7 linked regions of the Homo sapiens genome follow. The protein of the gene in region 1 interacts with the protein of each later gene in a pairwise test. Each region holds a gene or a part of one and is shown in the gene's direction. Other genes may lie near its edges. The genes, in order: TERT, IREB2, U2SURP, GLIS2, PHF20L1, SLC7A11 and TEAD2.

Evidence for each region.
Region 2: the proteins of TERT (region 1) and IREB2 interact in a two-hybrid assay, tested with the Homo sapiens proteins (one study listed by BioGRID).
Region 3: the proteins of TERT (region 1) and U2SURP interact in a two-hybrid assay, tested with the Homo sapiens proteins (one study listed by BioGRID).
Region 4: the proteins of TERT (region 1) and GLIS2 come close enough for resonance energy transfer, tested with the Homo sapiens proteins (one large-scale study listed by BioGRID).
Region 5: the proteins of TERT (region 1) and PHF20L1 interact in a two-hybrid assay, tested with the Homo sapiens proteins (one study listed by BioGRID).
Region 6: the proteins of TERT (region 1) and SLC7A11 interact in a two-hybrid assay, tested with the Homo sapiens proteins (one study listed by BioGRID).
Region 7: the proteins of TERT (region 1) and TEAD2 come close enough for resonance energy transfer, tested with the Homo sapiens proteins (one large-scale study listed by BioGRID).

The regions. Positions count from the first base shown.
Region 1 is NC_000005.10:1,264,069-1,267,568, reverse strand, and holds part of TERT (telomerase reverse transcriptase), read left to right. Parts: intron 1-1,033; coding exon 1,034-1,105; intron 1,106-2,976; coding exon 2,977-3,165; intron 3,166-3,500. UniProt on the Homo sapiens protein: Telomerase is a ribonucleoprotein enzyme essential for the replication of chromosome termini in most eukaryotes. Active in progenitor and cancer cells. Inactive, or very low activity, in normal somatic cells.
Region 2 is NC_000015.10:78,444,716-78,448,215, forward strand, and holds part of IREB2 (iron-responsive element-binding protein 2), read left to right. Parts: intron 1-3,500. UniProt on the Homo sapiens protein: RNA-binding protein that binds to iron-responsive elements (IRES), which are stem-loop structures found in the 5'-UTR of ferritin, and delta aminolevulinic acid synthase mRNAs, and in the 3'-UTR of transferrin receptor mRNA.
Region 3 is NC_000003.12:143,032,570-143,036,069, forward strand, and holds part of U2SURP (U2 snRNP-associated SURP motif-containing protein), read left to right. Parts: intron 1-214; coding exon 215-377; intron 378-701; coding exon 702-781; intron 782-2,318; coding exon 2,319-2,406; intron 2,407-3,412; coding exon 3,413-3,500.
Region 4 is NC_000016.10:4,322,567-4,326,066, forward strand, and holds part of GLIS2 (zinc finger protein GLIS2), read left to right. Parts: intron 1-2,081; exon of another isoform or gene 2,082-2,209; intron 2,210-2,703; exon of another isoform or gene 2,704-2,788; intron 2,789-3,500. UniProt on the Homo sapiens protein: Can act either as a transcriptional repressor or as a transcriptional activator, depending on the cell context. Acts as a repressor of the Hedgehog signaling pathway. Represses the Hedgehog-dependent expression of Wnt4.
Region 5 is NC_000008.11:132,816,888-132,820,387, forward strand, and holds part of PHF20L1 (PHD finger protein 20-like protein 1), read left to right. Parts: coding exon 1-189; intron 190-451; coding exon 452-658; intron 659-3,500.
Region 6 is NC_000004.12:138,221,850-138,225,349, reverse strand, and holds part of SLC7A11 (cystine/glutamate transporter), read left to right. Parts: intron 1-2,025; coding exon 2,026-2,151; intron 2,152-3,500. UniProt on the Homo sapiens protein: Heterodimer with SLC3A2, that functions as an antiporter by mediating the exchange of extracellular anionic L-cystine and intracellular L-glutamate across the cellular plasma membrane.
Region 7 is NC_000019.10:49,342,756-49,345,416, reverse strand, and holds part of TEAD2 (transcriptional enhancer factor TEF-4), read left to right. Parts: intron 1-2,018; coding exon 2,019-2,186; intron 2,187-2,661. UniProt on the Homo sapiens protein: Transcription factor which plays a key role in the Hippo signaling pathway, a pathway involved in organ size control and tumor suppression by restricting proliferation and promoting apoptosis.

The DNA.
Region 1 (3,500 bases):
TTTGCTACTGTGAATAGTGCCGCAATAAACATACGTGTGCATGTGTCTTTATAGCAGCATGATTTATAATCCTTTGGGTATATACCCAGTAATGGGATGGCTGGGTCAAATGGTATTTCTAGTTCTAGATCCTTGAGGAATCACCACACTGTCTTCCACAATGGTTGAACTAGTTTACACTCCCACCAACAGTGTAAAAGTGTTCTGGTGCTGGAGAGGATGTGGACAGCAGTTATTTTTTTATGAAAATAGTATCACTGAACAAGCAGACAGTTAGTGAAGGATGCGTCAGGAAGCCTGCAGGCCACACAGCCATTTCTCTCGAAGACTCCGGGTTTTTCCTGTGCATCTTTTGAAACTCTAGCTCCAATTATAGCATGTACAGTGGATCAAGGTTCTTCTTCATTAAGGTTCAAGTTCTAGATTGAAATAAGTTTATGTAACAGAAACAAAAATTTCTTGTACACACAACTTGCTCTGGGATTTGGAGGAAAGTGTCCTCGAGCTGGCGGCACACTGGTCAGCCCTCTGGGACAGGATACCTCTGGCCCATGGTCATGGGGCGCTGGGCTTGGGCCTGAGGGTCACACAGTGCACCATGCCCAGCTTCCTGTGGATAGGATCTGGGTCTCGGATCATGCTGAGGACCACAGCTGCCATGCTGGTAAAGGGCACCACGTGGCTCAGAGGGGGCGAGGTTCCCAGCCCCAGCTTTCTTACCGTCTTCAGTTATTTTTCCCTAAGAGTCTGAGAAGTGGGGCCGCGCCTGATGGCCTTCGTTCGTCTTCAGCTGGCACAGAATTGCACAAGCTGATGGTAAACACTGAGTACTTATAATGAATGAGGAATTGCTGTAGCAGTTAACTGTAGAGAGCTCGTCTGTTGGAAAGAAATTTAAGTTTTTCATTTAACCGCTTTGGAGAATGTTACTTTATTTATGGCTGTGTAAATTGTTTGACATTCAGTCCCTCGTAGACAGATACTACGTAAAAAGTGTAAAGTTAACCTTGCTGTGTATTTTCCCTTATTTTAGGCTGCTCCTGCGTTTGGTGGATGATTTCTTGTTGGTGACACCTCACCTCACCCACGCGAAAACCTTCCTCAGGTGAGGCCCGTGCCGTGTGTCTGTGGGGACCTCCACAGCCTGTGGGCTTTGCAGTTGAGCCCCCCGTGTCCTGCCCCTGGCACCGCAGCGTTGTCTCTGCCAAGTCCTCTCTCTCTGCCGGTGCTGGATCCGCAAGAGCAGAGGCGCTTGGCCGTGCACCCAGGCCTGGGGGCGCAGGGGCACCTTCGGGAGGGAGTGGGTACCGTGCAGGCCCTGGTCCTGCAGAGACGCACCCAGGTTACACACGTGGTGAGTGCAGGCGGTGACCTGGCTCCTGCTGCTCTTTGGAAAGTCAAGAGTGGCGGCTCCTGGGGCCCCAGTGAGACCCCCAGGAGCTGTGCACAGGGCCTGCAGGGCCGAGGCGGCAGCCTCCTCCCCAGGGTGCACCTGAGCCTGCGGAGAGCAGGAGCTGCTGAGTGAGCTGGCCCACAGCGTTCGCTGCGGTCACGTTCCTGCGTGGGGTTGTTTGGGATCGGTGGGAGAATTTGGATTTGCTGAGTGCTGCTGTCTTGAACCACGGAGATGGCTAGGAGTGGGTTTCAGAGTTGATTTTTGTGAATCAAACTAAAATCAGGCACAGGGGACCTGGCCTCAGCACAGGGGATTGTCCAATGTGGTCCCCCTCAAGGGCGCCCCACAGAGCCGGTGGGCTTGTTTTAAAGTGCGATTTGACGAGGGACGAGAAACCTTGAAAGCTGTAAAGGGAACCCTCAGAAAATGTGGCCGCCAGGGGTGGTTTCAGGTGCTTTGCTGGGCTGTGTTTGTGAAAACCCATTTGGACCCGCCCTCCAAGTCCACCCTCCAGGTCCACCCTCCAGGGCCGCCCTGGGCTGGGGGTATGCCTGGCGTTCCTTGTGCCGCAGCCCGGAGCACAGCAGGCTGTGCACATTTAAATCCACTAAGATTCACTCGGGGGGAGCCCAGGTCCCAAGCAACTGAGGGCTCAGGAGTCCTGAGGCTGCTGAGGGGACAGAGCAGACGGGGAACGCTGCTTCTGTGTGGCAAGTTCCTGAGGGTGCTGGCCAGGGAGGTGGCTCAGAGTGTATGTTGGGGTCCCACCGGGGGCAGAACTCTGTCTCTGATGAGTCGGCAGCCATGTAACAGGAAGGGGTGGCCACAGGGAGCTGGGAATGCACCAGGGGAGCTGCGCAGCTGGCCGAGGTCCCAGGGCCAGGCCACAGGAAGGGCAGGGGGACGCCCGGGGCCACAGCAGAGGCCGCAGGAAGGGAAGGGGATGCCCAGGCCAGAGCAGAGGCTACCGGGCACAGGGGGGCTCCCTGAGCTGGGTGAGCGAGGCTCATGACTCGGCGAGGGAACCTCCTTGACGTGAAGCTGACGACTGGTGTTGCCCAGCTCACAGCCCAGCCAGGTCCCGCGCCTGAGCAGGAACTCAGAACCCTCCCCTTTGTCTAAAGCACAGCAGATGCCTTCAGGGCATCTAGGAGAAAACAGGCAAAGTCGTTGAGAAACGTCTTAAAAGAAGGTGGGATGGTGGCAATTTCTTGTCCAGATTTTAGTCTGCCCCGGACCACAGATGAGTCTATAACGGGATTGTGGTGTTGCCATGGGGACACATGAGATGGACCATCACAGAGGCCACTGGGGCTGCACCTCCCATCTGAGTCCTGGCTGTCCCGGGTCCAGGCCAGGTTCTTGCATGCTCACCTACCTGTCCTGCCCGGGAGACAGGGAAAGCACCCCGAAGTCTGGAGCAGGGCTGGGTCCAGGCTCCTCAGAGCTCCTGCCAGGCCCAGCACCCTGCTCCAAATCACCACTTCTCTGGGGTTTTCCAAAGCATTTAACAAGGGTGTCAGGTTACCTCCTGGGTGACGGCCCCGCATCCTGGGGCTGACATTGCCCCTCTGCCTTAGGACCCTGGTCCGAGGTGTCCCTGAGTATGGCTGCGTGGTGAACTTGCGGAAGACAGTGGTGAACTTCCCTGTAGAAGACGAGGCCCTGGGTGGCACGGCTTTTGTTCAGATGCCGGCCCACGGCCTATTCCCCTGGTGCGGCCTGCTGCTGGATACCCGGACCCTGGAGGTGCAGAGCGACTACTCCAGGTGAGCGCACCTGGCCGGAAGTGGAGCCTGTGCCCGGCTGGGGCAGGTGCTGCTGCAGGGCCGTTGCGTCCACCTCTGCTTCCGTGTGGGGCAGGCGACTGCCAATCCCAAAGGGTCAGAGGCCACAGGGTGCCCCTCGTCCCATCTGGGGCTGAGCAGAAATGCATCTTTCTGTGGGAGTGAGGGTGCTCACAACGGGAGCAGTTTTCTGTGCTATTTTGGTAAAAGGAAATGGTGCACCAGACCTGGGTGCACTGAGGTGTCTTCAGAAAGCAGTCTGGATCCGAACCCAAGACGCCCGGGCCCTGCTGGGCGTGAGTCTCTCCAAACCCGAA
Region 2 (3,500 bases), on another chromosome or scaffold:
CTACTTTTAATAAAAATAAAGTATATGTTGTTTTGTAACCCTTTTTTTCACTTAATATATCATGAACATCTTTCCATGTCATTGAATACAGGTATCCCTTGCTATCTGAATCTACTTGGTTTCTGAGTCAGGGAGCTTGAGTTCAGGTAGAAAGGGATACCTGTACTTCTCTGTGGCTTCTAATAGCTGCACAATATTGCCTGTATGAATGCATTGTGGTTTAGTTAACAGACCTTTGAATATTGAGGCTGATAGTAACTTTTCTCTATTTATAAATAAACTTTGTATGTGCTAATACTTACATTTTTGTGCAAACTTATCATTATATAGAATTGTTGGATTGAAAGTATGTTATTTCCTCCACCCCATCACACGCTTTTATTTTTATACTTTCACTATTTACTGTTGGTTCCAGTCTTTATTTTTTTTTTTTTTTTTTTGAGACAGAGTCTTGCTGTGTTGCCCAGGCTGGAGTGCAGTGGCACAGTCTCAGTTCATTGCGTCCTCCAACTCCTGGGTTCAAGTGATTCTTCTGCCTCAGCCTCTGGAGTAGCTGGGATTACAGGCCCATGCCTTCACACCCTGCTGATTTTTGTATTTTTAGTAGAGACAGGGTTTCGCCATGCTGGCCAGGCTGGTCTCGGAACTCCTGGCCTCAGGTGATCCACCTGCCTTGGCCTCCCAAAGTGTTGAGATTACAGGCATGAACCACTGCACCCGGTCTGGTTCCAGTCTTTACCTTGGACTAAAAAGAACAAAAACTCACTCAAGTAAAAAATAGGTTGCAGTTTCCAGACATCCAAAGACAAAGGAAGAAAGCATAGTCAAGTTTCAGGGAACCAGAATTTCTAAGCCAGAGGCAGTGTTCTGTTTGTCACTTAAAGGCTGCCTGGTTTCCTTATTTTCTGTTTCTTTTTGAATATCCAGTCTTCCATCTCTACAGCCTACTTCACTTACTCATTTTTGTATAATGCCCAATATGGCCACTGCTGACCATTCTTGTATGTTATGACTGGATTACTAACCGGTTAAGAGTGTACCTCTAGGTGACTCTTTTACTTGTTTTGTTTTGTTTGTTTTGTTTTTTCCCTCAGGGTCTTGCTCTGTTGCCCAGGCTGGAGTGTAGTGGTTCGATCATGGCTCACTGCAGCCTGGACCTCCCGGGCTCAAGTGATCCTCTTTCCTCAGTCTCCCAAGTAGTTGGGACTACAAGCACATGCCATCATGCCTGGCTAAATTTTAAATGTTTTGTAGAGACAGGGTCTCCCTACATTGCCTAGGCTGGTCTTGAATCCTGGCTTCAAGTGATCCTTCTGCCTCAGCCTCCCAAAGTGCTGGGGTTACAGGTGTGATCCATTGTATCCAGCTCACCTGTTGTTTTAACCTATTTTGACTGCACTTGTCAGGAGTCTATTGCCGGTCTGGTGATCTTGCTGGTAGAGACACAAATCTGTTCATCTTGTCTTTTATGTGGACTCTTGAAAAGACTGGGTTGGGTAAGCAATGTAACAGTTTGCTTGTAATTTGTACACATAGTACATAACTTTCCAAGGATTACCTTTACCTAACATCATCCTACTAGTCCATGTATAGCCATGTGCTCACCAACCCTCCACATTTCAACTTTGTTTTTATTGCCAATTTCTATTCTAGATTAGGCCCTTTTGGTTCCAAGGAACAGACACTAGCTCGAGTGAAGAAGGATTTATTGTAATGATACAGCGCTCCCCAGGCCAATGAAATGTGGCTGTCTCTCAAGAAAATGGTGGTGGCCCAGAATTAAGGAAGTTGTTTATTATTTTCTCTTAGGAGCTTCAGATTTCTGCCCTGTTCCACTCTTCTGCTTCCTCCACTTCACTATAGACAAGCCTCCTCTGCCTGCTCACTTTGTACATGGCCTCAAATGGCAACCTCAGTCCCTAGCTTAGCTCTTAACACCTTTCCAGTTCAGTCTCTCTGTGTCCTGATTACACATTTCTGAGAGGTGAATCTAATTGCCCCAGTGTCTCCTTTCTCACAAGACTTTTGGTCATCAGCCTACCAGGGGATTGGCTTTTGCGTCGCTGCTGTAGCCAAGGAGGCCACAGGCCACCGAGAACTGTAGCAGTTTGGACAGGCACCATGAAGGACATCTGTTGTATAGTGTTAGCAAAGAATGCCAGTTTACATGCTTACCAGTGAATGAGAAGAATATGTGTTTCTGCACCTTCATCAATAGTAGATATTATTTTTCTTGTTGGCTCAATTTCTGTCAGTGAATGAAGAGAAGAAAAAAAACTTTCTTCTACATTAAATTGGGGGGTTTATTGTGAAGATTTGAAGGAAATAAGGAAATTGAGGGGATCTGAGTGCGTGGTCAGATCAGACTCTTTGTTCCCTTCAGTAGGCATGCATAGAACCCATGATTCTGGCTTAGCTGATTTTCCCTATTTCTGCTTTCCTTTCTTTTTCTTTTCTTTCTTTCTTTTTTTTTTTTTTTGAGACAGGATCTCTCTTTGTTACTCAAGCTGGGGTACAGTGATGCAGTCATAGTTCACTGCATCTTCAACCTCCTGGACTCAGGCAATCCTCCCATCTCAGCCTCCCACTACAAGAAGACACCACTACACCTGGCTAATTTTTTTTTTTTTTTTGAGACGGACTCTTGCTCTGTCACCCAGGCTGGAATGCAGTGGCACCGTCTCGGCTCACTGCAACCTCCGCCTACCAGGTTCAAGCAATTCTCCTGCCTCAGCCTCCTGAGTAGCTGGGATTACAGGTGCGTGCCACCATACCTGGCTGATTTTTGTATTTTTAGTAGAGATGGCATTTCACCATGTTGGCTAGGCTGGTCTCAAACTCCTGACCTCAGATGATCCACCTGCCTCGGCCTCCCAAAGTGCTGGGAGTACAGGCGTGAGCCACCACTCCCGCTCTGATTTTTTTTTTATCTTTTATAGAGACGGGAGTCTCCTGAACTCCTGACCTCAAGCAGTCTTCCTGCCTTGGCCTCCCAGTGTGCTAGGATTACAGGCGTGAGCCACCATGCCCGGCCCATTATTCTGCTTTTCTTTTTCTCTTGGTTCTTTTTTGTTTCCATCTGTTTTCTGCCTTCTCCCTAAGTCAAGTTCAAGGTATCACAGAACGAGGCTGAGGCAGCCTATTGGACATGACATTTGTGCTTGGCGAACTCCCTGTGCCACTGGCCAGACTGTAAATTGGTTGTCTGTTGGAAGGCTGGCTCCAGGTCCCAGCTATTCATGCCAGGATGGCAAGGCTACACAGAGCCCACCAGCAATTGGTATAGAAGGAACTTTTTAGAAAGAGGGCTGTGGTATAGGCATTCTGAGGACGTGCCAGTACAGGTGAAAAAACAAAATCTTATGCAGGAATCTGTTTTGTTTTCTGCTTCCTCAGACTCTCTCAATGGCAATGTATGTATGTATGTATGTATATATTTATTTATTTGAGACAGAGTCTTGCTCTGTCATCCCAGCTGGAGTGCAGTGGCATGATCTCAG
Region 3 (3,500 bases), on another chromosome or scaffold:
AATTGGAATCTTATTCTACAGAGTATTCTTATATAAATTCTTCAAAAAATTGTAACAATTTTGGGGGACACAACACAAATCAGACTGAATGTATTACAGTCTTCAGAATTATTTTATGTGAGTAGGTTTTAAAGAAATTAGTTTGTGAGCAAAAGCTACAATGGCATTTGAAATTGTATCTAAATATTTATAAGTTAAAACAATTTATGTTCAGACAGAGGGATAAATTGGAAGAAATCTTGCGGGGATTAACTCCAAGGAAAAATGATATTGGAGATGCAATGGTTTTCTGTCTTAATAATGCTGAAGCTGCTGAAGAAATAGTGGATTGCATTACTGAGTCGTTGTCCATCTTAAAGACACCCCTTCCTAAAAAGGTATGGGAATGAATTTTAAGAAAAGGGGAGATAGTTGACGTCTTTTGGGATTAGAATTGGTTTCCTTTTTGCACAAAGCACTTGACTGATGAGATTTTTCCCATGCAGTCTTATGTTATTTCTGCTTGGAAATTTAGGTTCATTAACATACAAGTTAACAAACAAGTTGAAATGTAAATGGGTTAACAAATTTCATCTCTGCCAGAGTCATAGTTGTGGTGATACTGAGCTTCATATAACTCTTCTAATTAGTAGCCATAATTAAATTATAGCTAAACATTAGCCTTATATTAACCTATTTTGTGTTATCTTTTGATATTATAGATTGCCAGATTATATTTGGTTTCTGATGTTTTGTACAACTCTTCAGCCAAAGTTGCTAATGCTTCATATTATAGAAAATTGTAAGTATAATGATATAACTGATATTCCTGAAATAAAGTATTTAAGGGTAAGGAGTTCAGAAAAGAGGATTGTTTTGTTAACATCCTGCAAGAATAAGAAGTACAGTCAGCCCTCCATGTCTGTGGGTTCCTTATCCATGAATTCAACCAACCATGAATTGAAAATATTTGAGAAGAAAAATTGTATCTGTACCGAACCTGTACAGACTTTTTTCCTTGTCATTTTCTAAACAATATAGTATGAAAACTCTACATAGCATTTACATTGTATTAGGTATTGTAAGTAACCTAGAGATGATTTAACAGATGGGAGGATGAGGATAGGTTACAGGTGAATATTATGCCATTTTCAATCAGGAACTTGAGCATCTGTGGATTTTGGTGTCCATGGGAGGTCTTGGAACCAGTCCCCCCATGGATACTGAGGGAAGACTAATTTGAATTTCTTAATGGTTTGTAGAATTTTTTAAAAAATTGGCTTACACTTAAGCTAAATTACCAATTTTTTGGAAAGATTTTATATCATATCACTTTCTTAGCTATTGACAGTATAACAAATAGGTGTTAAAGAGAACTTTATTGCATATCTAGCTATTCATATAATAAATAGAAACAGTGTATATACTGGCAAACATAAGAGACCAAAGACATACTATTAACTATAGAATCTGTGTTCTCTTCTGATCCTCAGCATATTGATTTTAGTTCATTGTAAATGTTTCCTAAGGCAAAAGGAAGTTACGTTGCTGTATTATAATTAATGTATAATTCAGCTGGGCACAGTGGCTCACGCCTGTAATCTCAGCACTTTGGGAGGCCAAGAAGGGCTGATTACCTGAGGTCAGAAGTTCGAGACCACCCTGGCCAACGTGGTGAAACCCCATCTCTAGTAAAAATACAAAGATTAGCTGGGCGTGGTGGTGTGCCTCTGTAATCCCAGCTACTCGGGAAGCTGAGGCAGGAGAATCGCTTGAACCCGGGAGGCGGAGGTTGCAGTGAGCCGAGATGGCACCATTGTCCTCTAGCTTGGGTGACGAGCAAAACTCCATCTCAAAAAAAAAAAAGTATAACTTTTCCTCTGTTCCCCAGAGCTCTCTTTCTGTGTTTATTTTATGAATTAGGCAAAGGGAAGCTTTTCCCTAGGATGTTGCTCTGAAAAGAAATTTAGAGAGCTGGATCCTACTCTTAGGTCTGCTATTAGTTTTTTTGCCTTGGACGAGTCACTTTTCTAAGTTTTCTGTTTTATAAAATAAAGAAATTGGACGAGATGGTTCAGCATATCCTAGATATAACGTTTCTTGCTCGTAAAGGGAACTAGTAGGGACTGTTGGGGAGTTTGTAGGAGAAAAATTCAGAGTAATAAGAGTTCAAGCAATTCAGTTACGGTTTTAGAGTTTAAACACCTAGTTTTTGATTTTTAATAATTTCTTGATTTGTAAGTATTTTAAGTTCAGGAGGGGTTTTCATTGGCTGGCATGCTAAAAGGGAAAGGAATTTTAAACATTTTATTTTAAAGAATGTGTTATTTGAATTTCAGTTTTGAAACAAAGTTATGTCAGATATTTTCAGACCTCAATGCCACCTATCGTACAATTCAAGGCCATTTACAATCTGAAAACTTTAAGGTACGTTTATTGTTTTACTATTTTTGCCCTAGTGTTTTAAATGGGTGGGGGGAGGGCATTGAAGGGCTAGAAAAGTGCATAAGACAAGTATGAGACATAAATTTAAAACTTAGATGTTACAGAAGTTACTGTTTTAAAATTCTGTCGTTTTTGTTTTTATCAAATCAAAAATTTAAAAGATACTATTTTGTCAGGTTTAATTTTAGTTTTAAATATTGTTTAAAAATTATAAATGTTAGTCTTTTTTCATAAAACATACAGAAGAATCACTTGTTTTGTAATGGTATATACTATTTGGCTGGATTAAAGACATACATTTTAATCATGTTTAGAAAGTCTATTCTGTTACCAATTTTTTTATAACCTCTTAAGCTCTAGACCAGTGTTAAGAAAAGCCAAGTGTAGTACTTCACTTATAATTGAATAAGTAAATATGCTTTCATGGGAAGAAGACTTTTTTAAGAAAAATTTTTAGTTTCGGAAGATGCCCAGTGACGCCACCATTTAGGGCATTCAGACAACTCCCATTTTAAAAGTTTTTGACCTTAAATTTTGACCATAAGTTAGAATTTAAAGACAAGTTTCAGGAAGATACAGAGTAAAGTATTAGCCAGAATTAGGAAGTACTTTATTGGACCATAAGGGATTCAGGTCAAAACTTGGCTACTTTGGTTTCCAGTTTTAGTAAGTTTCTATGTAAGTGTTTCTGGAATGTGGCTCATGGGTAGTACTAATGGTATGGGAGCTGACCTTAGGTGGTAAAGAGCAAATAGTTACTGTTTATTTTTCATTATATTTATTTTTAGGGGTTTTTTTCCTTTTAATTAGAAGGTGACATTGATTTTTTTAAAAAATATGGTAATGATATATAGTTATTTTCTTTAAAGTTTAAAAAAACATCAGTTTAAAGGCAAATTTAGCAAATCTTGATGATCATTCTCATGAACTGAAATTTGAGACATATAGCCCAAAATAAAAGTTTGTTGTCTGTTTCCTGTTTCTTTAGCAACGGGTAATGACTTGCTTCAGAGCATGGGAAGATTGGGCAATTTATCCAGAACCATTTTTGATCAAACTACAAAATATTTTCTTAG
Region 4 (3,500 bases), on another chromosome or scaffold:
CACCCCATATCCATGAGGCTGACCCGGATCTGTGCCCAACCCCCTGCAGGAGCAGCCCCCCCCCTACACTGTTTCTCCCACCCCACCTTGGTCGGGGCACCCTCAAGGTCCGGTTCGATCTAGCAGGGCCTGGCGTTGGAATGCATGAATGCGTGGTTGGAGAACCGAGGCAGGAGGGCAGGCCAAGGTCCACCGCCCGCCTTACCCACTCCTGCTCTCGGAGTTGGCGGGTGCCGTTCCCAGTGGACCTGGTACCTGGCCCCAGGCAGGGGAGGCGTGGGCCACGGGCCTGCCCCGACCCCCCAGGACTTAGGAGCTCCTTGTGGGATCTGCCTGCAGCCAGGCGTGGCTTGGGAGGCGCGGTGTTTCCTTCGCTCTGGGGACCCGGCCTCATCCCTGCTCTCCCCCAGAAGCCAAGGCTCCTGAGTCCTGGCCCCGACACTGGGGCAAGGGGTTACTGTGATGTCCTGTGTGTGCCACATTTGTGCACAGGTGTCTGTACATCCGGGGGTGCTGTGGGTGCCTGCTCATGTCCTGTGCTACACTGGCCCATCCCTTTGCTGGCCTCAGATAGCTCTGGCTGGGTCTGCTGAGAATGGCAGTGCCGCCTGGCAGGGCCTGGGCTGTCTGTGCCCCAGCCTTGCTGGGCGTGCATCCCTGTCTCGCTCCCTGGTGCCAGCCCCTCCCAGGGATTTGGGTGGCAGGGCCCAGTGCTCTGGTCCCCTCCCCTCCCAGCCCGGGTGGGTGGGCAGGTGTGGGGGCTGCGGGGCGGGCTTTCCTCTGGCTGGGGCCCAGGTGCAGGCGGTGATCATAGCTCCAAGCACCCCCCCAAAGCTGGGCAGACAGGAAAATACCAGACATAGTTGTGCAAAGGTGCAGCAGCGGGCAGGCAGCGGGGGGGTGGAGGCCACTGCAGCAGGGGCCCGGAGCCACCAGGATGGGGAGGCCTCTGTGCCAGGCCGGCCCTGCAGCTGGACTGCCATGGCCATCTGTGTGAGTGTGCGTGTGTGTGCCGGGGCTCCCGGAGCCCGGTGTCACCCTCCCTGCTGGCGTTGGAGAAGGAAGTGCCTCTGGTGGGGCATCTCCTAGGAAGCCCGGGCTGGTGCAGGCCAGGGAAGCCCTCCGGCCCGTCTTCCAGCTTCAGCTCTGCCTGAATTATCTGGGTGACCTTGGCAGGCCCAAGTTGCTGTGCAGGGAACCCCCAGCCTGGGGCCGGAAACAAGAATCCTTTAGGTTACCAGTAGCTGGCAGCTTCTTTATGGCAGGCATGAGGACAAGGCCCTCCCTTGCAAGATGCCCTGAGTCCCAGGGACCATTGCCGTGGTGTCTGTTACCTACAAGGAAACCAAGGCTCAGAGACAGCAGGGCCTTTCTGAGTTCCCACAGCCAGGGGTGGCACAGGGGGCTGTAACCAGGCAGCCTGGCCCTGGGGCACACTCTGTGAACACGCAGAAAAAAGATCCCTGGCACATCCCATCTTCAGGTGCTTTCCCGAGGACCCCACGGCAGAGGGCAGAGGTCAGCCCTGGCTGGGTCACCTCGGACCCCTTGTGTTCCCACCCCGGGAGGGGGTCTGCCCTCCCAAAAGGTCCGGGGGTGCTGGCTGAGTGCCCCGTCTTGGGAGGGGGAGGGGCTGCCTACTGAGCCAAAGGTTCCCAGGGACGGTGAATCCCCCACTCTTCCAGGAAGTGCCGCCTGCCCTGGCCCCTCTCCTGGGATCTGCTGGGCCAGGCCTCAGGATAAGCTCCTCCCCCTCCAGTCCTGGGAGGAGGCCTGTCTGCGGCCAGCTCCTTCCAGGGTTGATCAGGCCTTCCCGGGGCCTTGTAGTGCTCTTTCTTTGATGCAGTTGGGCTCTGGAAGGTGGTTAGGGCCAGCTGTGGTCACTCCCCAGGATTGAAGAGGCCTGAGGTTCTTTGAGGGGCATAGGCTTGTTTAGGGTGCACGCTGGCTGGCAGGTGGCAGAGCCCAGGTTCTCCTGGTTCAGGGTGAGACTGCAGTGGCATAGAGGGGATGGCCAGTCCCCACTCAGCTGCCCTCACAGCGGTAGATGGGCCAAAGGCTATGGACTCATGCACACTGGCGACGATTCATTCAGCACGTTTTATTAAGCACCTACTATGTGCCAGGCACTGTTCTCCGTGCTGAACGTTACGGACGAAGGAGAAGCACTCAATAGTGATTGGATGTGCAGCACTGCATTGGTTTCTCCCTGAAACCCAACATGGGGGTCCTATATAATCCCATTTGGGATGAGGGGGATGAGGCGCAGACTGAAGAGACACGCAAAGGGAGTAGCAGAGCCGGGTGGGGCCCCAGATTTCGAGTCCGGTTCTGTTGCCTGGTCAGGAAGGGGGGCCCTGAGAGGACGAGCCCTCCTGCCTGGGGCCCCCAGCAGGCCCTGCCCCTGCCCGCCAGCCCCTGCTGCTGGGCGGCCAAGGAGGGTGGAGCTCTTGGCCAGAGCAGGGAGCCGCAGCTGGTTCCCAGGAATCTGGGGCTGTGGGGCCGTTTGCTTTGGCAGCAGATCTGCCCTCGGCTCTCCAAGCCTCCTGGTGGGCCCCCCACCCCAGCCAGCCCCTCCAGCGCCCACCCACTGCCTGCTCTGCTATCCCTCCTAGCCCCACAAGTCCCTGGGCGGGGAGGGGGTACCAAGCCTGAGCCCCTGACATAGGAAGGGCCAATAGTGAACATGGCTTCTGGACTTACCTGGGGTTGAAACCCAGCTCTGCCACGGACAAGCTGTGGGACCTTGGATGGGTCACTTCACTCCCCTGAGCCTCAGTTTTTGCATCTGTAAAATGGGGATGAAACAGCACCTGCCTTCACAGTACCCGCACCTGGCTATGGGTACTGTCCTCATGCTGCTTGCCCGTGGCTTCTGGTTGTGGGTTTGCCACCTACTTGTGCAGCCTGGGCTGGATGCCTCCCCCTTCAGCCCTCAGTTTCCCCATCTGTAAGACCATACTGCTGAAGTGATGGTTCCAGTAATAGACTCAGGGACACCCACAGACCAGGGTTTCTCTGACTGGTTCAGGAGTGACCAGGGACTCACTTCCTCTTTCTGTTAAATTAGAAGATGACGGGCTGGGCGTGGTGGCTCCTGCCTGTAATCCTAGCACTTTGGGAGGCAGAGACAGGAGGATGGCTTGAGTCCAGGAGATCGAGACCAGCCTGGATGACACAGGGAGACCCCCCCATCTCTGCAAAATAAAAAATTTAAAAATGAGCTGGGTGTGGTGGTGGTGCACCTGTGGTCCTAGCTGCTCTGCAGGCTGAGGCAGGAGGATCTCTTGAGCCTCGGCGGCAGTTAGCCATGACCACGCCACTGCAGTCCAGCCTGGGAGACAGAGCAAGACTCTGTGTCTTAAAAAAAAAAAAAAAAAAAAAAAAAAAGGCCAGACTTGGTGGCTCACGCCTGTAATCCCAGCACTTTGGGAGGCCGAGGTGGGCGGATCACGAGGTCAGGATATCGAGACCATCCTGGCTAACACGGTGAAACCCTA
Region 5 (3,500 bases), on another chromosome or scaffold:
GTCCTCCACAGCCTGTGAATCCCCCTAGACCTTTCAAGCATAGTGAGCGGAGAAGAAGATCTCAGCGTTTAGCCACCTTACCCATGCCTGATGATTCTGTAGAAAAGGTTTCTTCTCCCTCTCCAGCCACTGATGGGAAAGTATTCTCCATCAGTTCTCAAAATCAGCAAGAATCTTCAGTACCAGAGGGTAATGTATATTGATTTCCTATAGAACCAAACATAAAAGAAGATAAAGAAAAAACTAAGAGATAAAGATTATTAAAATATTAAGATATTTCTGCTCTTATATCTTCTGGAGTTATAAGCACTTCACTTATTCTACAAATATTTATTGAGTGCCTTCTTTGTGCCAGGCACTGTTTAAATTATGTAACACTTTAATTCACAGTGATAGTAACTGAGCCATTTTATCTGTGTTAATATTACATTACACTCTTTATTTTGTGTAGTGCCTGATGTTGCACATTTGCCACTTGAGAAGCTGGGACCCTGTCTCCCTCTTGACTTAAGTCGTGGTTCAGAAGTTACAGCACCGGTAGCCTCAGATTCCTCTTACCGTAATGAATGTCCCAGGGCAGAAAAAGAGGATACACAGATGCTTCCAAATCCTTCTTCCAAAGCAATAGCTGATGGAAGAGGAGCTCCAGCAGCAGCAGGTAAAAGAAAAAAAATAAAGGCTCCTATAAGTAGATAAGTAGCTAGGCTTGCAGTTATTAGGTATAAACATTTTGAGGTTTAACTACATTATTTTGATTCCTATATAATTCCTTTTCATAAATACTTTAACATTTATAGGAGAGTTTCATCTCCGTTTTAAAGGTCTTTTGTGTGATCATTTTACAATCATATTCCCTGGACATACATGCTGCTTAACCTTGTCACTTGATCTATTTCCTTCTCCCTGCTTCTTTTTTATATATCCTTATTTCTACTAAATATAAATTATTAGAGCCAAGTATAGTTACAGGAATTCTTACTTTTGAAGCTGGGAAATACTTAATGGGATCAGTACTTTGGTTTAAGGATTTTGATAGAATTTAATATTTAAGAAACACTGAGCTATATGCCTGTATCTTAAATATAATTCCATATTTTGGGGCAGAATCCTCCAAATTGAATTAAATTTGCTGTAAAGTTATTTGAGGAGTGCAATATGTAAAATCAGCCATCCTTAATAACACATTTTTTGCATGATTTTGTGATATTTATTGTAGTTCGAAAGCATTTGGATGTGTATTTTACCAAGCTGATATTTTAAATCTAATAATATCTATTCATGTTTCCCTTATGTGGGTGCATTGTTTTATTTAGAAGTTTTTAAGAATTATAACCTGATCTAGAATACACATAAAATAAAAAGGCCAATACTAGTTACAAATGCACTTCTGGTAAATTACTGTTGGAACTAGATGTTTGAAGGAAGTCTGAATTTAGTTTGTTGTGAGTTGGAGAAAAACATAAGGCAGTTTGTTGATTCGTTACCAAGGGTGTTGGTGATCATTGTGTTTACAGGCGTCTTCCCTGAAACCATTTTATCCATTTTTTGGATGAAGCATAAAATGAAACTTATTCTTTTCTGGTGATGGCATGTATTGAAATAAAATGATTGAAGTAACATAAGAGACATATACTTATTTTTATTAATTTTTATCTTTATATAAAGGTTGAAGTTACTTTGTACATGATAATTCTTTATCATGTTTAAAAAAATAAAACAATACCCAAATGTGAATATTTGTAGATTTTGAAACATTTCCTGTAGTTTCTCAAATCAGATCTATTGTCTTTTGACTCTTGGTCTTTCCTTAAGATAATTAATTTTTCTTTTCCACTTTTCCACAAGATTTCCAAATTGTCATTGACCCATTGAGATACTTTTTTGATAAAGGTCTTATTCGGTTCTTTAACGATCTGGAATTTGTTACCGTACTGAATATATGAAAAATATGTTAAAGTTATAAGGTTGTATATACATTGGGAAAATTATTTTCAAATGTACATGTGAAAATATTTACATTTTTCTTTAAAAGTATTCTAATATTTGTAACAATATTGAAATATAGGCCAATATAAGTAACTGTGTAATAACTAAGAGTCTTACATTAACAGATTATATATCATAAAATATCAATGTAGTGATTGTGCATGGAAGTCCTTGACTTCGATGATTTTGCTTCTAACCAGATTATTAACTTCCTCTTTTCAGAATTTCTAGCATATTTGTGGCAATGTGGCTGACTACCTTAGAGGAAGGCACACGAATATTCTTTCCCTTTTTAAATATTAGCAGTAACTATTGGAAAAGTAAAATAAGTAAGATCGTTTTCTGGGAAAGTAAAAGGTAGAGAGGAGTTTAGCTATAATTTGAATTTGTGGAAGAGTAAGGATTATCTGGATATGATGAGCTTAATAGTACAGTAGCTGTCAACTTTAATTGATTATAGCAAGGAAATGCATAGTTTTAATTGTTAATTACTGAAGATTTATTAGAGGGTTGAACACAGTATTTGAATAGAGGGAGGTGAAATTCTCATTTGTTTCTGTGACCTCTTAATTTTTAGTTTTTGAGGAAAGTAGTGCAATTTAGGTCATGTTCTGACTGAACACCTTTTGATTACAACCTTGTGTGCCTGTCCCACGTGCATTGAAATTCTCGGTGGTCTCTATGCTTTTCTCCTTAACCTTTTTGTTATTCACCCTCTCTTGACTATTTTGCAGTATTTGTTATGCTTCTGTCTGTTCCCCAAGTCCTTTTACATCTAGAGCCAAAGTGCCAGGTTTTTATGTTTTTATTTCTCTGATACATATGTACATATATGCACATACTCATACACACATGTATGTTTTGTTGGTGTCCATATTATAAAAGTAAATTTTCTTACTGTTGAATTTTAAAACTGATAATTGAAAACATTCTTTACAGTTCGTCAGAGACATTTTCTGAGTTATTTTTGTCAAATTGAAACTCTTGGGGAGTTTAGAATGATGAGGGTGTTAGTTGCTAACTGTGAAATTGTTCAACATGGTTAGGTTTTTACTTTTGGGGGAGCAAGATAAATTCACACTGTTGAGTTTAGCATTTGATGCTGAAGGATTGATGAGATTTGCAGATAGTCCAATTATTATATACAACTTTTCTTAATTGTTTTCCAATAGAGATAATGAACTTGCAATAATCTCTCGTATGTTCTTCTGCTGGGGTGGATGCCCACATGTCTAGCCACTGTTAAGAATGCTATTGCTGCCTACATTACCAAACAAGTAATTGGTATCTTTGTAAAAATTGATGCCTTTGTTTTTATTTTACTATCAGGATGCTTTGTCACAGAGCCAGCCAATTTTAGATAAGGATACAGCCTCAGAAAATCTTAATTCTGTTAGTATCTGGGAGGATAGAGTAAATCAAGTTTTTTGAAAAGGGGTCTTTTGAAAAATACTCTTGGTTCAGGTTCTCACAGGCACCTTGGGCCAACAGTTATCTATTGCCCCTTGTCAACA
Region 6 (3,500 bases), on another chromosome or scaffold:
CTGTATTTCACTTTGTATGAGATCTTCTGATCCCTTATTTTTCCCATCTTGGAGTTTTTTCCAAAAACAAAATGTATTTTATTGCTTCATTTACTTTTGAAAATTTTTTCATCTTTATTGAGGTATATACAACAAATAAAATTGTAATTTTAGGGTGTACAATGTAATGATTTTATTTATATATATATATATATATATATATATATATATAGTGAAATTATTGTCTCAATCAAGTGAGTTAACACCTCTGTCACATCATTTAGTTACCCCTCTTTTTTTTGTTTTGTTCTGTGGTGAGAACATTTAAGTATATTTCAAGTATACAATTCAGTATTTGAAACTATAGCCACCAAAATGCTATATGTTCATCATAAAATTTATTAAACTATTCCTAAAAATAAATTTAAAAAATTGAAAATTATTTAGTGTTCTATCACTTATAAACACCTGCTGTTGATGTTTTGGTAAATATGTTTCCAGATCTATTTCTCCTTCCTTCCTTCCTTCCTTCCTTCCTTCCTTCCTTCCTTCCTTTCATCCTTCCTTCCTTCTTTTCCTTCTTCCTTCCTTCCTTCTTTCCATCCATTCCTCTAACTTGCTGTATTGATCAGTAATATATCATGAATATCCTTTCTTGTAATAAATATTTAACTGCCTCATAATTTTAAGTGGCTGCATATAAACTATTAAAATGATATACCTTAATTAGCCTTCCTTTAGGAGGTTTAGGCTATTTCCATTTTTTTGCCTTTAAAGATTATGTGTTGCTGACATTTGCATTGATTGTTAAATTCTGAAGTGAGCTAGTAACTATATCAGGCAGTGAAAACTGTGAGGCGGACTCATTACTATATATAAGGAAAACTTCCAATTTCAATTTGAATAATAAGAATTCTGTAGGAGTTTTGTTTCATTCTTTGAGAAATATCTTTACATTTTAAATATTTGTTTAGGGAGAATATACCTTTATAAATATAAAGGTTATAGTTAATAACTGTAAATGTCAGGAATAAAGTAGTGTTTTGGGTTGTTCCAAGCATAAGGTTGTGGAAAGAGTATAAAGTTGAAAACCACTGTCTAGAATAACCTCAGTCATCCCAGCAGAGTAGGGGAGAAAGGTCTTAGAGCATCACCATTTCCCTTGTGCCTTAGATTTTCTAACTGAGGATCCAGTTCATTCATTCAACAAAAATGTATTAAGTTACCTGGGCCAGGCATGGAGCTGGATACCAGCGATACAGCGATGAATAACCCTTGCTCTATCCTTGAGGTTTTCATGGTCCACAAGGTGTCGAAGGTGGATAGTTATTGCTGCTTGGGAAATTGTAGACAGCATCAGTAAGAATGAAAAATTCTTCTGGCTTTGAACCCAATGTGCATTCTAGCCTGGTTAGTCTTTTGCACTCATCACTTAGAATATTGTGCTGAAGCCCTGAAACATATCTTGAAAAACTATACTTGTACGGTGGGTTGAAAGTCGCCCCTTGACATGCTAATTAGAAAGAAGACAACCAAAAGAAAAGTGCTGCCTGAGGCTAGTCCTGAGAGTGAAAAATAAGATCTGAGCCAACTTCTACACTTCTTGCTCCTTCTTGAGTGTGATCCACATTGGCAGGCATACCATCATAGAGACAGGAAAGAGTTGTCACATCAAGCTAGACAGTGAAATTCAGCCATCTGATTGGATGCTGGGTTTGGTTAGAAGACATTTTTATGTGATTGTTAGAGTACTACAATATATGTCCACTCTTACATACAAAGAACAAGAGAAGAATTCTTATTGTCCAGAGGCTTTATCCATGTTTCTCAAACTTCAATGTGCATAAAAACCAGCTGGAGAACCTGTTGAAATGTAGATTTGTATTCATTAGGCCTGGGGCAGAGCCTGAGATTCTGCATTTCTAAAACACTTCTAAGTAATGTCAACACTGCTGCCTCACAGATTGCCCTTTGAGTAACAAGGACCTAAAATGTCTTTGTGCCAGTGAGAATTCACCTTTTGTAACTTCCTCTATTTGTTTGCAGCTGTAGTGATGGTCCTAAATAGCATGAGTGTCAGCTGGAGCGCCCGGATCCAGATTTTCTTAACCTTTTGCAAGCTCACAGCAATTCTGATAATTATAGTCCCTGGAGTTATGCAGCTAATTAAAGGTATGGACTGAAAAGCAAATGCTTTTTAAAATACGTATCTGCTTTTGGTCTTTTTTAACACTAACTTTTGCTTGTACTAACAGAATCCTTAATTAGTCTCTGCCTGTGGAACTTAAACTCTATATTGTCATCTAATTGATTTGAAAGGCTGCTACATTGTGAGTGAGTTGGTTTTTACAGTTGAATGGCAGAAAGAGGATTAAGAATGGGCCATGCAACAAAATAAGGCATCAGTGAATTTTCTAGGTTTAATGGTTTGGAGTGAAAACTCGAAGTGGAAAAAAAAAAAACCTGCCACTTAGTTTTAATTAAAGATAAATATGTCTTTTTTTTACTTTAAAATTGTCCAATAATAGTAATAAAAATTAAAGAGAAAAAGGTATCTGGAAAGTGATAAAAGATGATCAATAATTCTTTGACTTTCTGGTTATTATTCCTTTTAAATTGAGAGTGGTATCCTCAACAGAGGAGTCAATACGGGAACAGCATTCCTAAACACCAAAATTATATCACAATAAAATAGTTGTAAAAACTTAATTTTTATTGTTACATTATTTTTAATATAAAATTCGCATTTCTGCGATTACTTGCTTTATAGAGTTTAACATTTAATTTAAAAAAAGAAATTGAGAGGTGACATTTAGAGTTTTTGTTTTAGGAAAGAAGGCACATGCAGTTGCTTGGATTCAGTGGAAATTGTTGGAGGACAGAGATTCACATGTGGTATTTAATTAGCAACAGGAATATAGCAGGAAATAAAGTGAGAAGAAATTGTAAAGGAATGACATAACTTGGGCATGTTAAGTATTTAATGTTTACATTGATATTGTCTGTTCCAAGAAAGGGAATCTAGAGAAATTTAATGACGTTGCAGAAGAATTACACAAGGCAAAAGGAAATGCCAGCGTTTGGTAAAATCATCACTGTTGGTAGAAGCATTAAATAATGACAAACACTGAAGGATCAGCCACTCTGGAGCTGGGAAAGGGAGCTGCTGTTGCCCATTTAATAAGCCTAGTGGGAGATTTTAGAGCCCTGCTGGCGGAAATGCTTTTATGAAATCCAGCAACAGCAGCCAATGCAGAATAAACACAATGAAGATTTTGACCGTTAGAGCTTGCACTGAAGAGAAGACAGGAGCTTGCTCTTCTAATACACCTTGGCCTCCACAGAGCTAGCCTGCTCATTTCTATCTTATTCGTTAGGAATGTAGGCACAATAATCTGTTTTGTTAGTGCTTTATTTTTCTGAGCTAACTCTTCAGTCTTCTGTAAGGAGTTTCTTCAGTATTTGAAAAGTGCAGAATCTCTGGGTCATTGGCTGTTCTTTAATACTAGTTTAGATTCCAA
Region 7 (2,661 bases), on another chromosome or scaffold:
TGTGCCACTGCCCTCCAGCCTGGGTGACAGAATGAGACCCTGCCGAAAGAAAGAAAGGAAGAAAGGAAGAAGGAAAGAAAGGAAAGAAAAGAAAGAAGGAAAGAAAGAAGGAAGGAAGGAAGGAAAGGAAGGAAAGGCCTGCTGAGGGCCTGAACTTTACTGTTCTTGCTGGGAGTGTTGTTGTTCTGGAGCTTGCTGTTCACGGTTCTGGAGCTTTCTGCCATGTGAAGCAGAAGCCTGAAACTGCTCTGGGGATGTGCAGCTGAGGGCTTAGACATTGTTGGGGCTTAAGACAGGCCTTATCAGGTCCCAGGACTGGAGAGCCACCCCCTTAGGAAGCCCAGCTGCTGAAGGGGTTCAGAGGAGCAGCTGGTAAGGTCTTTGGTTTTGCCACGGTGAGAGATGGAGTCGGGCCCCTGAGAAGACGGACCTGGCACAGTGTTAGCAACTAAAGTTAGGAAGAGGAAGAGGTGCGCCTCGCAAGGAGGTGACTCAGACCAAAGGTGTGATGAGCTCTTAGGCTTCCTTAGGCCCCACTTGGCCTAGTGACACTTGGCCAGCTGTCTACACACACTTGGCCACTGGGGTCATGGAGGGAGTCTGACCTCTCAGATTTGGCCGAGGGGGAAGTGCTCTGAGGAGGAGTCAGGCCTCCTCAGGCTCCGTGAGGTCCCGTTGCTAGGGAGTAGCCACTTGCCTTAGCAACCAGAGTGAGAGGGGCTTAGAGGGAGGTATTCATCTTGAACTGGTTGCTAAGAAGTAACTGCCATAGTAACCAGGCCCTTGGAAGGGGCTGAACTCTTGAGTTGCGGGCTTCAAGGGAAAAAGGTTGAATTGGCTGGACACAGTGGCTCATGCCTGTAATCTCAGCACTTTGGGAGGCCTAGGTGGGTGGATCACCTGAGTTCAGGAGTTTGAGACCAACCTGGCCAACATGACAAAACCCTGTCTCTACTAAAAATACAAAAATTAGCCAGACATGGTGGCGTGCGCCTGTAATCCCAGCCACTTGGGAGGCTGAGGCAGGAGAATCGCTTGAACCCGGGAGGCAGAGGTTGCAGTGAGTCAAGATCGCGGCATTGCACTGGGCAACAAGAGCGAGACTTCATCTCAGAAAAAAAAAAAAGAAAAGAAAAAAGGTTGAAATTGAATTCCAGGGCTCCTTTGGTTACTGGGGAGACAGGGCCAAGACTGTTTTGGGGACCCAGACTTCTTCAACGCTGATGGACGGTGGATCTTCTCCAGAAACCAGCCCTTGGAGAACTTTGAAAGCCTGACGCGGTGGCTCATGCCTGTAATCCCAGCACTTTCGGAGGCCAAGGTGGGAGGATCGCTTGAGCCCAGGAGTTGGAGACCAGCCTGGGCAACATGGTGAAACCCTGTTTCTACAAAAAATACAAAATATTAGCTGGATGTGGTGGCATGCACCTGTGGTCCTAGCTACTCAGGAGGCTGAGATGGGAGGATCACTTGAGCTCAGGAGGTCGAGGCTGCAGTGAGCTGTGATTGTACCACCACACATTGCCTGGGTGACGGAGCAAGACCCTGTTCCCCCCCCCCCAAAAAAAAAGACAAACAAACAACAAAAAAACAAAACAACACTGAAGAATCAAGCCGGGAACTGCAGGGGTAATGGTAGGCTATGGGGCAGAGTCCCCACTGTGTTTTTTTTTTTTTTAAGATGGAGTTTCGCTCTCGTTGCTCAGGCTGGAGTGCAATGGTATGATCTCGGCTCACCGCAACCTCTGCCTCCCGGGTTCAAGTGATTCTCCTGCGTCAGTGTCCCAGTAGCTGGGATTACAAGCATGCACCACCACGCCCGGCTAATTTTGTATTTTTAGTAGAGATGGGGTTTCTCCATGTTGGTCAGGCTGGTCTTGAACTCCCAACCTCAGGTGATCCGCCCGCCTCGGCCTCCCAAAGTACTGGGATTACAGGTGTGAACCACTGCGCCTGGTAGTCCCCACTGTTTATAAGGGATGTCCCCTCTGACTCATCTGTGCCTTCCCATCTCCCAGGCGGACCTGAACTGGGGCCCAAGTGGTGAGGAGGCAGGGGCCGGTGGCAGCATCAGCAGTGGTGGCTTCTACGGAGTGAGCAGCCAGTATGAGAGCCTGGAACACATGACCCTCACCTGTTCCTCCAAGGTCTGCTCTTTTGGCAAGCAGGTGGTGGAGAAGGTGGAGGTGAGGCTGGAGGGGTGGAGCTCTGGGTCAGCACTTGGGGGTGCAGAATGGACCAGAAGCCATCATGACTCAGGCATTTGGGAGTATGCATGGAGGGAGTGGGTCCCAGCCTCTTTGAGGGTTTAATGCATGCGTTGGGAGCTAATGGGCAGTTCAGAAGTCACAGGCAGGGATCATTCTGCGGGCTGACAGGTAATGTGTAGTATAGAGACTTAGAGTCACTGAGATTGAGAAGGGTCTTATGGATATGGAGAGGTTCTTAGGGCAAGAAGGTTCAGAAGTCACACTTACAGTTGCTGGAGACTTGGGGAAGTCTCAAGTTTAGAAGTCAGAGTTTGAAGACGTCATGGAGGGGTCTTTGGAGGGTATCTGAGGGCTGGGAGGTTAGAGGAGTCCAGAGGTCTTTGGGGGTTCAGAGAATCACTTTGAGGGGCTTGTGATTTGCAGGCTCAGAGATCCTGATTCGGATCTCCGA